Regions from separate parts of the Homo sapiens genome. Here region 2 is linked to region 1. Evidence: fine-mapped expression QTL. Tissue or cell type: whole blood. Region 1 holds a variant in brackets; the other region holds the start of a gene. All regions are shown on one strand. Distances are between the middles of the regions.

Evidence for each region. PIP is the estimated chance that this variant, and not a neighbour inherited with it, causes the effect.
Region 2: ABCA1 starts here. The variant in region 1 is fine-mapped to the expression of ABCA1 in whole blood (TOPMed, PIP above 0.99).

What each region holds. Positions count from the first base shown.
Region 1 is chr9:105,020,148-105,028,252 of GRCh38, forward strand. No RefSeq gene overlaps it. Among named protein-coding and RNA genes, the nearest start is that of CT70, 32 kb to the left of the region's middle. The variant G/A (reference allele first, on the strand shown) is at 3,540.
Region 2 is chr9:104,924,671-104,932,775 of GRCh38, forward strand. ABCA1 (ATP binding cassette subfamily A member 1) reads right to left here and starts at 3,485. Exons shown (of 50, transcript NM_005502.4): 1 at 3,265-3,485. LOC105376196 (a long non-coding RNA gene) reads left to right here and starts at 2,119. Exons shown (of 3, transcript NR_188620.1): 1 at 2,119-3,240; 2 at 4,838-5,054. RefSeq lists silencers at 1,879-2,118, 3,455-3,644 and enhancers at 2,795-2,854, 3,175-3,254.

The sequences.
Region 1 (8,105 bases):
GGAAGCTGAGGCAAGAGAATCACTTGAACCTGGGAGGCGGAGGTTGTAGTGAACCAAGATTGCGCCATTGCACTGCAGCCTGGGCAACAAGAGCAAGACTCTGTCTCAAAAAAAAAAAGGCCAGGCACAGCGGCTCACACTTGTAATCCCAGCACTTTGGGAGGCCAGGGTGGGTGAATCACGAGGTCAGGAGTTCGAGACCAGCCTGGCCAACATGGTGAAACCCCGTTTCTACTAAAAATACAAAAATTAGCTGGGCGTGGTGGTGGGTGCCTGTAATCCCAGCTACTTGGAGGCTGAGGCAGGAGAATCACTTGACCCCAGGAGGCAGAGGTTGCAGTGAGCCGAGATCATGCCACTGCACACCAGCCTGGGCGACAGAGCTAGACTCCTTCTCAAAAGAAAAAAAAAAATAGAACTACCATTCAACCCAGCAATCCCATTACTGGGTAGATACCCCAAAGGAAAACAAATCATTCCACCAAAAAGACACATGCACCCGTATGTTCATCGCAGCACTATTTACAATAGCAAAGACATGGAATCAACCTAGGTGCTCATCAATAGTGACCTGGATAAAGGAAATGTGGTACATATACATCATGGAATACTACACAGACATAAAAAAGAACAAAATCATGTCCTTTGCAGCAATATGGATGCAACTGGAGGCCATTATCCTAAGCAAACTAACATAGAAATATAAAACCAAATACCACATATTCTCTAAGTGGGAGCTAAACGTTGGGTACTCGTGGACATGATGATGGAAACAACACACTGGAGAATACCAGAGGGAGGAGGTAGTGAAGAGAGCAAGAGTTGAAAAACTACCTATTGGATACCATGCTCACTACTTGGATGACGGGTTCAATCATACTCCAAACCTCAGCATCATGCAGTATACCTTTGTAACAAACCTGCGTATGTGCCCCCTGAATCTAAAATAAAAGTTGAAAAAAAAAATGTGTGTTCTTGTCCATTTAGTCTCTCTCTCTCTTGGCTGGGGTAGTTCCCTGAATTTTGAGATGCAGAATCTATAGAATGAGTAGAGACATAAGAAGCAGGGGAAGAATTTAACGAGATACCCAGTTTTATAAGAGATCAAGTTTTTCATAAGAGCTGGGCTATAGTAGAAAAGGAGACAGAAGAAAATGGACGGTGAGGACATTATGCTAAGAGTAATCAGTCAGTCGCAGAAGGACAAATACTGCATGGTTCCACTTACATGAGGCATCTAAAGTAGCCAAACTCATAGAAGCAAAAACAGACAGTAAAATGGTGGGGGAGAGGGAAAGTGGGGAGTTGCTGTTCAGTGGGTTTCAATAACGCAAGATGAAAAGGTTCTAGAGAGCGGCTGTACAACACTGCACCTATGGTTAACGATAACGTGCTATACACTTAAAAACTGAAGAGGGTAGATCTCATATTATGAGGGGTTTTCTTGTTTGTTTTTTGTTTTATTCTTATTTTAAAAAGGAATTAGTAGAAGAAAATGGGGCCAGGGCTGAAGGCGGAGGATGGGAGTTTGGCACATGAGAGATTCCAGAGCAGATTCAAGATATAACAGAATTGGAGAGTGGAGGAAGGAGTTTTTGAGATGTGCGGTTCTGCGCTGGGAACTGGATCCCCTTCAATAATTTATAAGAGACATGAATAAAAAATAGAATCAATTTTTAATAACTTTGGAGGGAATTCTTATTTCTTCTTTAAATGTGACTGTGGATAGAATGAACTGCATGAGCATCAGGAATTTGTTACGGTTGCATATATTATGTCCTGTCTACAATTAGAATGATAAAGTCTTGGGGAAAGTGCAGGCTCCAAGTCAAGTTGAATAGCCTCTGCCTCTTACTAGCTCTATGATGTTGGGCAAGTTTCTTCCGCTGACATGGAGGTCATAATACCTACTGCGTAAGTCTGTTTGGAGTATTCAATATGAATGAGATTACATAAATGATGGCACCTATAGAGAATGTGACAAATAGTAGCTGTACCATAACTGTGATTGCTTTCAGAATGACTCAGACCAGGGAACCTGTTATGGTCGCAAGGTCTCAAACTTCAGAGATCATTCTAATACTTAAGGAAAAGGACTATATTAACTGCTTTCCAAAGAAATGGAGGCAAGAGATGGCTCAAATGCTCTAAGTTCTGCAATCTCACCATGCAGTACACATCCCTAAAGCTTTGTAAGTTTAAAAGTTCCTCTGTGTAAATTTAAATTCCAATGAGTTACTATTTATTCACCCATCAGATTGGCAAAGATGGAAAAACTAATAACACGTGTTAGCCAAGAGTGTGGAAAAATGTGCACCTTCACACATTGCTGAAGACAGCACAAAATCACATAACCTCTGTGTAAGGTAATTTGACAAAATCTATCAAAATTTTAAACGTACCTTTTAACAGCAAGTTTATTTCTAGTAATTTAGCTTACAGATATTCTCCCACAAAATGATATATGTATGATGGTAATATTTGCAACATTGTTTGTAATACCAAAAGCTTGCAAACAACATATATGTCAATCTAAATGAAACTGGTCTAATAATATATGACTTTTATTTTATTTTATTTTATTTTATTTTATTTTATTTTAATTTTATTTTATTTTATTTTATTTTATTTTATTTTATTTTTTGAGGCACAGTCTCACTCTGCTGCCCAGGCTGGAGTGCAGTGGCTCGGTCTCTGCTAACTGCAACCTCTGCCTCTCGGGTCCAAGTGATTCTGGTGCCTCAGCCTCCTGAGTAGCTGGGACTACAGGCGAGTGCCACCACGCCCAGCTAATTTTTGTATTTTTAGTAGACATGGGGTTTTGCACGTTGGCCAGGCTGGTCTCAAACTCCTGACACTCAAGTGATCTGCCCACCTTGGCCTCCCAAAGTGCTGGGATTACAAATATGAGCCACCGCACTTGGCCCCAAACATATTTCGACAATTGATTCTATGCAGCATTTAATAAAAATAAAACAGCTCTGGGCCAGGTGCAGTGGCTCACACCTGTAATCCTAGCACTTTGGGAGGCTGAGGCAGGTGGATTACCTGAGGTCAGGAGTTCAAGACCAGTCCGGCTAACATGGTGAAACCTTGTCTCTATTAAAAAATACAAAAATTAGCTGGATGTGGTGGCACATGCCTGTAATCCCAGGTACTCGGGAGGCTGAGGCAGGATAACTACTTGAACCCGAGAAGCAGAGGTTGCAGTGAGCCGAGATCATGCCACTGCACTCCAGCCTGACAACAGAGCGGAACTCTGTCTCAAAAAAAAAAAAAAAAAAAAACACAAAACGAAAAACAAAACCATACTGCAGGCCAGGCATGGTGGCTCATGCCTGTAGTCCCAGCACTTTGGTAGTCAGAGGCGGGCGGATCACCTGAGGTCAGGAGTTTGAGACTAGCTTGTCCAAAATGGTGAAAACCCATCTCTACTAAAATTACAAAAATTAGTCAGGCGTGGTGTCGTGCGCCTGTAATCCCAGCTACTTCGGAGGCTGAGGCAGGAGAATCGCTTGAACCCAGAAGGTGGAGGCTGC[G/A]CAAGATTACGCCACTGCACTCCAGCCTGGGTGACACGACCAGAACTCCGTCTCAAAACAAAAACAAAACAAAACAAAACAAAAAACATACTGCGGAGGGAGGGAGTATTAAAGAGAAGCCTACAGCTTCTACAACTCAAACCAGGAGCTCAATGTTCTTGAATTGACATGGTCCGAAGTGACATCTCTCAGCTCTGCTTCTTTCTGCAGTTGGCCTCTTCTGCAGACAGTTTCTCCACAATGGCTTCAAGCTGCTAGCACTTGCATCATCCACACAGCTTGCACCTCAGAGAAAGCTATCTTTCCTGATAGCTCCTGCAGAAAGGTCCAGTTTGGGTAATGTGCCTGCCCCTGAACCAATCACTGTGGCCAAGGAGATGGAATAGTCTGACTGGCCAGTCTTGAGGCTGAGGTGAGCTAAGCCCCACCCAAATAGCATAGAATGGGGGAACCAGAAAGTTATGTGCCATTAATATTCAGCCTGGGGTTGGGTGCAGTGGCTTACGCTTGTAATCCCAGCACTTTGGGAGGCTGAGGTGGGTGGATCATTTGAGGCCAGGAGTTCAAGACCAGCCTGGCCAACACGGTGAAACCCCGTCTCTACTAAAAATACAAAAAAAAAAATAAAAATAAAAAAACTAGCCGGGCATGGTGGTGGAAACCTATAATCCCAGATACTTGTGAGGCTGAGGCAGGAGAATCGCTTGAACCTGTGAGGCAGAGGTTGCAGTGAGCCGAGATCATGCCATTGCACTCCAGCCTGGGCAACAAGAGCGAAACTCCATCTAAAAAAAAAAAAAAAAAAAAAATTCAGCCTGGGCAAGGAAGAGGAGAGATAGTAGCTTTGATAAGGAGAAACCATCCAGGCTGAGTTATAGGGGCTAGGAATTAAAACGGAGCCATCCAGGGTTTAAAAACGGGTCTCAGAGCTGAATGAAAAGATCTCTGTGGTTCCGTGGAGACTTTTAACGCCACACTCTTTCAATTTAGGAGACAGCCTTCCTGGGCATCTACAGCGGGGCCCAGTGCAACGCTGTGAGCTACAATGGGCAGCCACAGGGATGCACCAAGCAGTCTTTGTCAAAATTGACTAATGCAATCTCCTCTTTTGCTTCAGACATTGAGTCCTAACCACTATTTGTCATCACCTAAACCGTTGGTAGTTTCTCAAAATTTTTCCCTGTTTAACACATCTGAAGGAAATAATACACCTCTGTATGTAAAGTGGCCCTTATTATATCAGTGATTGGGGAGGCAGAGGATGCTGGGATTTTCAGAGGGAAAAGGCATTCCCTGGCAAAGAATGTTAGGATGCTGTGGAGAAAGAAGGGAGGATTAACATTTTTAAAAAGTCGCCTGGGTGATTCTGCTATACCTAGGTAGAAAGGCATTCCTCCCTCTGTCCCATGCTACAGGGGAGAATCAATATTGTTCCACATACAAAATTTTAACCCTATAGGTCATCCAGTGTGACACTAGCCACCTACTCATGGTAATCGCTAACAAGGCAGCCACTTGTAACACAATCTAAATCTTGGGATTGGCCAGGTGCGGTGGCTCACGTCTGTAATCCCAGCACTTCGGGAGGCCGGGGCAGGCAGATCACCTAAGGTCAGGAGTTCGAGATCAGCCTGGCCAACATGGTGAAACCCCGTCTCTACTAAAAATACAAAAATTAGCTGGGTGTGCTGACAGGTGCCTGTAATCCCAGCTACTTGGGAGGCTGAGGCAGGAGAATCACTTGAACCCGGGAGGTGGAGGTTGCAGTGAGCCGAGATCGCATCACTGAATTCCAGCCTGGGCGATAAGAGCAAAACTCCATCTCAAAAAATAGATAAATAAATCTTGAGACTTTACAAGTCCCAAATCCATATCCCATGAGGGCATTTGCAAACATAATGTTAAATTTCTTAATGTTGTGCCTACCCTCTGACCCAGTAAGTCTACTTCTGGGCATTAAATCTAAAAGAAATGGAAATAATCCATACAGAAAGAGCTTTATTGACAAAGCTCTATAAGGAATTACATATAATAATGAAATTACATATAAGAATTTTCATTAATTTACATATAATAAAAAAATGAAGTAGACTAAATTCATAGGAAGAAAGTGATACGAGCTGCTCTGTGTACATCAACTCATCTAACCTATTTAATTCTCACAACAACCCAGTGAGGTTGGTATTATTTTTATTTTATGTATTTATTGTTTTACAGTTAGGGATTCAAGGCACTGTGTAGCAAATACTGATTATAGTTTTATGCATATAAATTTTGCATAAATTATATATACATAAAACTATAATCAGTGTTTGCTATAATACAAATTTATGCAAATTTATAAATATAATTATTAATAACTTGTGTAACAGAAAAATTATTAGGTGGCAATATTAAGTGGAAAAACAAATGGATGATATAATATCAGTTATATAAAATATGCATTAAAAAGGACTTTAAAACATATTAAAATGTTATCAACAGCTATCCTTGGATGGTGAGTTACTTTCTTCTTTCTGCTTTTCTATATTCTGTAAACTGTCTATATTAAGAATGACTGATTTTTAATTTTAGTAAAAATAAAACAAATTGTTTAAGAGTTACCTTCATATACATTAAGACATTATAGTGAATATCCCTGGGTAAGTGGAATTGTGGAGTCTGTTGTTCTTTGTAGTTTCATGTTTTCCAGTGATAAATATTCATTATTTTTGAGAAAAAGGAAAAAACTAATAAAAGAAACATTTTAAAAAGAAATGTCACTTTGGACCATGTCAATTCAATAATTCATTCAAAGCATTTAGGGTTGCCTTCCCTACCCCCTTGCCACCCAACTCTTTGTAACTTAAAATAAAAGGCCATTATCCATTTTGCCTCATAGAAAGCCATTTCTTGCAGGATTGTAAACCACAAACAACGGGAAGACACACTCACTGAGCTGTGCATTTGCAAAATGCATGCAGTCAGGAGTTAGTATGAGCAATGTTTCTCTAAGAGGAACAATGCACATAACTCCCTCCTGCAGAAATGTTTTACCAGTGCCTCATAAATGTGGGCTCAATGTAACTGAGGACAAAAGAAATCTTCAGGTCCTTTGAAAGAGCATTCAGCTTTCAGAAGCCAACAGAGAGAGTTCAAAAAGTTCCAAAAATAAGAATCTTCCATAAGATATCCTCATTCCCAGCCAGTGAGGTGCAGTTTCTGTGGCAGAGGAAAGAGAGCAGATTCTGGAGTCACAGTCCTGTCATTTATCCCACCAAGAAACAGGTAGATCTTCGACTTCCATCCTTCCTCAGTAGAATCTTAGCCCAAGACCCCGTCATCTCTCACTTGGATTGTTGACATGTCCACCTTGCTTTTCTCAGCACTTCCACTCTTTCATCTTTCTAACCTTTTTCTTTACAGAAAAGCCAAAGTGATTATTTAAAAAAATAAATTAGAGCATTTTGCCTCCTGTTTGAAACCCTTGAAGACTGACCCATTCCATCACAAATAAAATGTATATTCCTCTTCATAGTTAAGAAATCTGATAGGACTAGAGCTGCCTTCTCTCCACTGTCATCCTGGGCCTCTGTGACCTCACCAGCGTTCCTGCAGCTATATTGGAGTATTTTCGGTTCCTTGGGTACATTGAGCTTCTTCCCACTTCTGAGCCTTTAAACCAGCTGTGTGCTCTACTTGGAAGAACTCTGCCTTCTCCTTTTATGGTTTCAGCTAAATTTCAGCTCCCTTGAAAGGCCTGTCTGACCACCCAATCTAAGTAGTTCTCCTCCTCCCAACCCTGCCCCCAATATTCTCTACCATTGCACCCAATCATTTCCTATACAGCACTTGTCACAACTTAAAATCGTGCATTTCTACCTTTGTTTACTTGCTTATTGTCTGCTATCCAGAGTGTAAGATTCATATCTGGTTTATTCACCACTGTATTACTTTCAGTGTGACTCCAGAATAATGCCTGGCACTTAATAGCTGTTTAAAAAAATGTTGAATGAATTAATTAATTCAACTGCTTATTTATAATGTGTCCTTGCATAGGTTTCTTGTCCTCTCTAGGATTCCGTTACTTCATCTGTGCAATGAGAATACTAATTCCCCATCTATAGATAAATGTTTATAAAAGGTCAAGCACAGTAGCAGGTACAGAGAAAGCTCTCCTGAAACTAGCTTTTGTTATGAAGGCTACTATGGGCCGGACAGGTAATAGAGAAATCCCATTTTTATCTTGTGAACTGATATATGAGCTACTGGTGTTGTAAAAAGCACATAATGGGTCCTTGACAAATGTCTGATCGATGAATCAATTACCAACTAAAAACTTTAAAATTCTAACCTATAAAAAGTTTACCACATGCACTGTTTATAACTTTTAAAATTGAATACAATTTAAATGTCCATCAATAGGAGAACAGGGAAATAAGTCTGGTATATACATACAATAGAATTATGTCTCAACGTAGATTGGGCTATAAAAATTATTAGTTTACAGCTGGGTGTGGTGGCTCACGCCTGTAATCCCAGCACTTTGGGAGGCAGTGGCGGGCAGATCACCTGAGGTCAGGAGTT
Region 2 (8,105 bases), 95 kb before region 1:
CATGCATTTTGATATTTTCTAGACATCTAGATATCTTCATAATTAGAAGAGTCTATCTAAGGTAATGTTCACTTATTCTAGCAGCTAAAAATGAAAACAGTGAAGACCTTAATTTGTAGCCACTACATATATAGCTTAAGTATCCCGGCTTACGGGAGAGAAGATCCCTTTAAAAAAAAAATTTAAATGGAAAAATATCCCAACCAACTCCTCTCCAAAAAGGTAAGTACTACAGAAGATAATAAAAAGCTAAGTCACTGAACTTCTTCAGTTTCATTCATTTTTTTATGTTTACAATGGGACTTCCTTGAGCAGAAGGAACCAATCCTTGAAAACAATCAATTCCTGATCACTCTTTTCCAATCCTGCACTAATGCACTGTCTCACACAAACCGAAAATATGTTCTAAGTCAAAATGTGTCCAGGGGTCGGGCGCGGTGCCTCACGCCTGTAATCCCAGCACTTTGGGAGGCCGAGGCGGGTGGATCAAGAGGTCAGGAAATCGAGACCATCCTGGCCAACATGGTGAAACTCTGTCTCTACTGAAAATGCAAAAACTAGCCAGGCATGGTGGCGTGCGCCTATAGTCCCAGCTACTCAGGAGGCTGAGGCAGGAGAATCTCTTGAACCCAGGAGGTGGAGGTTGCAGTGAGCCATATCGTGCCACTGCACTCCAGCCTGGGAAACAGAGCGAGACTGCATCTCAAAAAAAAAAAAAATGTGCCCAGGGTCCATTATAGGCCTGCACTCGTAGAAATACGAGGGTTGAGATTTCAAATGCTCATCTGCAGGGGAGACAACATATCACACGTGTCCAGGTTACAGTCAGATATGTCATTCTGGAACACTATGCGGGTGCTCAAATACAGACTCCTAAATTGCTCTGACAACAGTAGCAATTCTAGTCCCTTAAATGGCTTGTAGTCATCGTGAAGGCTGAAGACCCACTTCCCCGGTCCTTCTGATTGTAAACCAATGTTTTCCTAAAATTCCCTAGCATTAATTATTTTAATGGTTTGTGGAATTATTTAATGGTTTGTGGAAGCACTTGGGAAACAGGCTGACAATGGAAACTTTGTATTTGAAAAATATTGTAATATCTGTAGAGGTTCTACTCAGGAATACTTTCCATGCTTCCATACTTTCTCTGATTTAGGAGAAAGTTTCTCAAGAGAATGATACTCTCAACAGAAACGGAAAGTTTCTCAACAGAAAGCCTCCATTATTTTTGTGGTAGGTATGAGAAGAATAGGTTGAAATAAAAGGGGAGATGAAAACTTAAGGACTTTAAGTTTTGTTTGAAAAGAAGATCATAATTTAAGTCTGGGTTCTAAACTACGGCCGTTAAAAAAAAAAGAAAAAAAAATCAAGAAAATTCCACTCTTTAACTTGGGGGAAATTTTTGTGAGGTTCTCTTCGTGGGAAGCAGGGATTCGGCCATGGAGGGCAAGTGACTTGCTGATTTCAGTACCCAGAAGGTTTTTTTAAATATGAAATTTGTCCACTATGAGATGAATGTGTATATACTACCCATTCTCTTCTTGAAGTGTCAATGAAAAGTCGGATTTTAAAAGCTAATGGTATCAGTGCTGCAAAGGCAGGCCAATTACTGCCAGTGCCAGACAACTTTTTTCTTTGTTTATTTTTAATCTTATTTCTTTGCTTCTTTTTGATAAAAGATATACCTAAAGAGGCACCTACACATAACCCTGGCACCGTCCGCCGCCCCAAGAACCTTCCTGCTTTACCAATGGCCTGGGAGTTGGCAAACACGCTAACAAAAAAAAAAACCAAAAAAACAAAAAAAAAAAAACAAAACGGGCTTTCGCCTCAACCTCATAGTTCCTCCCCGTCTGCAACCACCGGTCTTCACCGGATTCACAGTCGGAACCGCGAGCAAAGACACCTAGTAGAGCCGGCCGATTCCTAGGTCCTCCGGCCAGGAGGCGCTGCGGGCCAGTCTCCGGGGGCCACCGCAGCCCGCGCGCCCAGCACCCCCACCCTCACGGCAGAGCCCAGCCCAGCCCCGCGGCGGAGCTCCGAGTTCTGCGCCGCCCGCCGGGGTTACTCCCGGTCATTCCACGGCACCACCTCGGCCCAGCTTCCCCATCTGCGCCCAGGCAGAAGCTGCCCCGAGAGACCAGCAGCAACGGTCTGGAAGATGGGGCTGCAGGGAACGTGGGAGAGGGAGGATTGGGCACCCCACCTCCGGGTCTCCGCAGGCTCTCCTAAGTCTTGTTTTTAAAAGAAACAAAACTCGGCCGCGCGCGGTGGCTCACGCCTATAATCCCAGCACTTGGGGAGGCCGAGGCCGGTGGATCACCTGAGGTCGAGGGTTCGAGACCAGCCTGGCCAACAAGTTGAAACCCCGTCTCTACTAAAAATACAAAAATTAGCTGGATGTGGTGACGCGCCTGTAATCCCAGCTACTCAGGAGGCTGAGGCAGGAGAATCGCTTGAACCCGGGAGGCGGAGGTTGCAGTGAGCGGAGATCGTTCCATTGCACTCCAGCCTGGGCGACAGACCGAGACTTAAAGGAAAGAAAAAAAAGAAAAAGAAAAGGAAACAAAACTCGTCCGCGCTCTGCGCCAGGGACACCAGCTCAGCTGAGCGCACGGAGACTGTAGGCAGGACCTCCCTACCCCTCAGGTCAAACAAAGACCCAAGGCCTCTAGTGAGCAATAGCACCACGGACCGTTTGGGACACCTCCAACTCGAGTTCCCGGATTCACAGTCCGGGACTGTGCCGCTCCAGTCCCGGGGAGCATATAGCCAATTCCCAGGTCAGAACAGACCAGCTTCTTAAGAACCGAGTGAAGACTCAGTGCTGGCATTTGTCTCCGTAGGTACTGGCCGACCTGCAACCAGAAGGGTTTCTAGCCAGCTCAGGGCCCTCCGAACAAAGCAGCGCTCGGTGCCGGACCTGCAGCTCTCCCCACCCGGCAGCAGCGCCCTCAGCACGCCCGGGAACCCCCGACCCCTCTGAGCCCGGGGTACTGCGCCCGGGTCTCCACGCCCAGAGATGCTCCCCGGTCTCCACCGTCGGGCAAGCCCCAAGCGCAGCAGCGCAGAGTCCTGGGGTCACCAGAGCTCGTACTAGGACATCGTCTCCCCATTTAACACCGCCTCCGGTCCCATCTGAGTTGCAAGTGGTGGGGATGTGGGGCTCCGGATCAAAGTCCCCGAAACCGAGCACTTCCCGAAGCCTCCTTGGCCTCGAAACAAAACAATAACGCCCAAGTAAGTCACTGGAGAGCCTCTTACCTGTTTTCCACTTTTGTGTTTGCGTCTCTTTCTCCTACCCCTTGACAAGCCTTCCGGAGAAGGGGAGAAAACAGAACCGGGGAAAAAACAAGGAGCAAAGCGCCCTGAGAACCGGCTCTGTTGGTGCGCGGAGCTCCCCGCCCTGCCCTGCCGCAGCCCGGGAGAGAAGGGTCGGCTCGGCTCTGCGGGTCCCGGCCCCACTCACTCTCGCTCGCAATTACGGGGTTTTTGCCGGGACTAGTTCCTTTTATAGATTCGGCTGCACCGAGCGCAGAGGTTACTATCGGTCAAAGCCTGTGCTCTCCCTCCTCCCCGCCCCGTTCCCGGCCTCTGTTTATGTAGTTCAGTCACTCAGCAGAAAGCACGTGGAGCCGGGGCCCGCCCCTTAAACGGGCGACGTTCAGCCGCCCACGACACATCTAGGGAGTTGGGGGGAGGTGGGTGGGGTGGGGGTGGAGGGTACAGCAGGTGTCTTAGGGTCCGCGGTCTGCGTCCCCTTCCCCCGCCCGGGCCCGCCGGCCTAAGACGCGCGGGAAGCGCTGGGCTCGGGGCTGCGCCGCAGACTCTCTAGTCCACGTTCCCGGCAGCCAAGGGCACCAGTGGAATTTGCTTCCTCTAAATCCTGCTTTCCGCAATTTTTTTTTCCTTTGTTAGTTTCCTCAGCCGGAGGGAGGGATTGGGGGAGAGAGAGCTCTAGGCTGAATCTCCCTCAGGACGCCAATCATTTTGTCTTGTCTTTTGTTTCCTTTCAAAGGCCTAGGCTGGGGTGAGGGGAAGGCGGACAGTCCTCTGGGTAATGGGCTGCTTTTGTTTTCCCCCCACAAACCTGGACTTTGATTTTTGATAGGCGACCTACTGCCTTGGAGATTCCCAGCCTGAGCTCCCCAGGTCCCTCAGAGGACCCGAGAGGAACATCTTACTGCTTCTCTTCATAAATTGAGAGGAAGGAGGCCACAAAAACAAAAAAAGAAACAAACAAACAAAAACACAGAACAATATGGACCAGCCCCCTTTTAATTTCATTATATTGATCAGCCTCCCTGTGATAAAAACACAGGACTTGTATTTAGTTTGTATACATTTGTGAAGTGCAGCCAGAGAATTGCAGTCGTGTAAAATTATGTAGCCACTCCAGACCTCCAACTTATCTGTTTGCCTTTGGCTGTAGGGGAGCAAAACTACCCAAAACACTGGAGGGGCAAAAAAAAAGGCAAGAGTAGGAATGCAGGCCTACACACCATATGTCTAAATATTTAAGTCATCCATCAAGCCAACAAACTAAATGTCACCTTATTCTGGCCAAAACTCAGGTCAAACTGTGAAGAGTCTAAATATGAATCTGCCCTGAAGGGCAGATTCATAGAAGACTCAGGACAGACCCGTAGAAGAGGCCCAAGCAGGCCCTGGAAGTGCACGTGGAGGCCACAAGGTCTCCTACCTTGACAAAGATACCTTTGTAGCCACCTTGAAGGGCAGATTCACATTTAGACTCTTCACAGTTTGACCTGAGTTTTGGCCAGAATGAGGTGGCATGAGAGAGCTGCCCCAAGCCTACTTCTCTTCCCACCTCCAGCTCCATCATATTCCAGAACTCCCACCACCTGCATACAGACATTCAGCTGCACAAGCCCCCTCCATGCTACAGTCAACAGGATCTCCAGGCCACGGCTCAAGCCCAGGTACTCACATCAGTGGTTCTATCAACACTCAGGACAGACCCATAGAAGAGGCCCAAGCAGGCCCTGGAAGTGCATGTGGAGGCCACCAGGCAAGGAATTCTGGAGTCCCAGGTACTCATAACTCTGGGTGGCATGGCCCCTTTGCACCATGGACTGTTTGCCCTTAGAAAGGGATGGATCTGAGCTGGGCGCAGTGGCTCATGCCTGTAATCCCAGCACTTTGGGAGGCCAAGGTGGGCAGCTCACCTCAGGTCAGGAGTTCGAAACCAACCTGGCCAACATGATGAAACCCAGTCTTTACTAAAAATACAAAAATTAGCCAGATGTGGTGGCGAGCGCCTGTTATCTCAGGAGGCTGAGGCAGGAGAATCGCTTGAACCCGGGAGGCAGAGGTTACAGTGAGTCGAGATCATGCCACTGCACTCCAGCCTGAGTGACAGAGCAAGACTCCGTGTCAAGAAAAATAAAAAGAAAGGGATGGATCTCAGAAAGGCCAGAGATGAGCTTTCTAAAGCCCAAGGCCCAGGAGAGCGGACCCCCTTGCCTCAGTCAAAGAATAACCTTGGTCAATAAATTGGGTTTTGGGGTCAAACTTGACAACCACATGATGAGCAATTTACGTAAAGTCTTTCTGCCTCTGTTTCATCTTGTTTTTTTCTTTTTTCATCTTTTTTTCCTTCCTTCCTTCCTTCCTTCCTCCCCCCCTCCCTCCTCCCCTCCCCTCCCCTCATCTCCTCTCCTCTCCTCTTTCTTTCTTTCTCTTTCATTTCTTTTTTTTGAGACAGGGTCTTGCTCTGTCTACCCAGGCTGGAGTGCAGTGATCCAATCATGGCTCAGTGTAGACTTGACTCCCTGGGCTCAAGCGATCCTCCCACCTTAGCCTCCCAAGTAGCTGGGACCACAGGTGCATGCCACCACACCCATCTAATTTTCGTATTTTTTTTGTAGAGACAGGGTTTTGCCATGTTATCCAGGCTGGTCTCAAACTCTGGAGCTCAAGCGATCCTCTGGCCTCAGCCTCCCAAAGTGCTGGGATTACAGGCATTAGCCATTGTGCCCGGCCTGTTTCTTCATCTTTAAAATGGAGAGAAGATGTATATTCTGTCTTCCTCAAAGGGGTTTTCTGAAAGTGAACTTTGTTGAAACCTTTGAGCTCCTTGGCAGAATGATGTTATAAAAGCAGAGAGTGTTATTAAAAGGTGTTATCTTTCCTAGCATGATTTTAGAGAGTAATTAGATCTCCCTGACCCTCCATCTCCTCTCTCCTTCTTCTCCTACCTATTTGAAGTCGACCACCAAAATCATTATTTTTTTTTTAATTGAGATGGAGTTTCACCTTTTGTTGCCCAGGCTGGAGTGCAATGGTGCGATCTGGGCTCATTGCAACCTCCACCTCCCGAGTAGCTGAGATTACAGGCACCTGCCACCATGCCCGGCTAATTTTTTATATTTTTTAGTAGAGACGGGGTTTCACTATGTTGGCCAGGTTGGTCTCAAACTCCTGACCTCAGGCGATCCACCTCAGCCTCTCAAAGTGCTGGAATTATAGGTGTGAGCCACTGTGCCCAGCCCAAAATCATTCTTTTTGGAATTTTGAAGCATATAATTCCAAAAGGTATGAAGGTAATCACTTAGATTGCTCTAATAAGGGAATGGGAACAGTTAAGTCCTATACAAATAAGACAAAGATAAGATACTACAAAAAGGGGATGAGCCCAAGAAAAAAATCAAAGTCCCAGAGAGAGAACAGCCATTGATTCTAAATACACAAGTCTATGGCCCCAACCCAAACTTGTTTCACTAAGAACAACCTGTGGTTTCGAGAATCTGGTCATCCCCCACAGTGAATACATGAACACATTGTAATGTTTGAAATGTTTATTTTTCTTGTTGATTTCTTACTGTTAGAAGAGCTAAGTGATTTGGCCCAAAGTGGCTAAGTGATTCGGCCAGTTTGTACACAGGGATATAAGTTTGCTGACACCAAGCTCATACTTTACAAATGTAATATCTTCATAAAACAAAAATACTGGGCCGGGCGCGGTGGCTCACGCCTGTAATCCCAGCATTTTGGGAGGCCGAGGCGGGCGGATCATGAGATCAGGAGATCGAGACCATCCTGGCTAACAGGGTGAAACCCCGTCTCTACTAAAAATACAAAAAATTAGCTGGGCATGGTGGCAGGCGCCTGTAGTCCCAGCTGCTCGGGAGGCTGAGGCAGAAGAATGGTGTGAACCTGAGAGGCAGAACTTGCAGTGAGCCCAGATCACACCACTGCACTCCAGCAGAGCAAGACTCAAAAATATATATATACTGAATCTCAAAAGCTAGAGCCTAAGAGATGCCCCTTAAAAAAGAAGCTTACAAGTGTGAATTTTCTTCCCTCCAGCCCTTAGGTTGGTTTGTCTTTTAGTATATTTCAATAAGCTTCCCCCTCCCCATCCCATCCCTGCCCCCCACACCAACACCAAAACCCCAAGTCCCTCCTCTAGGTGACTCCTTCCAAATACATAGGAAGGCCCTCCTTTGTTGCTGTTTTTCTGGAGAGGCTGATTCTGTAAATGTAGCCTGGGTGGCTTGAGGTTCTATTCTGAGATGACCCTGGCATCTTCTAATTACAGAATCAACCTTCAGGCAGCTGTGGCCTTGCAGACTCTGCTGGAGGTCATGGAACTACAGAAAAGCTCAATCTTATCATTCTATTGAGGCTTTTAAATTGGAGATTACCTAAATGGCATTGTTTGGAGGTTGCTTTGATATATGTTAACTCATCTGCATAAATGTACATGTACACATTGTTTAAAATACCAATGATACTGGTTGCTAGAAACTCTGAAAAAATAGAGTAATGCAGGAAGTCAATGAAGAATAAAAAATAATATATTTTAAAATGATGTTTTAAGATGAATTTGTTATGATTAAGAAGACCTGGTGGGGCACGGTGGCTCATGCCTATAATCCCAGCACTTTGGGAGGCCAAGGCGGGCAGATCACTTGAGGTTAGGAGTTTGAGACCAGCTTGGCCAACATAGTGAAAACCTGTCTCTACTAAAAATACAAAAATTAGCTGGGCGTGGTGGTTTGCACCTATAGTCACAGCTACTCGGGAGTCTGAGGCAGGAGAATCACTTGAATCAGGGAGGTGGAGGTTGTGATGAGCCG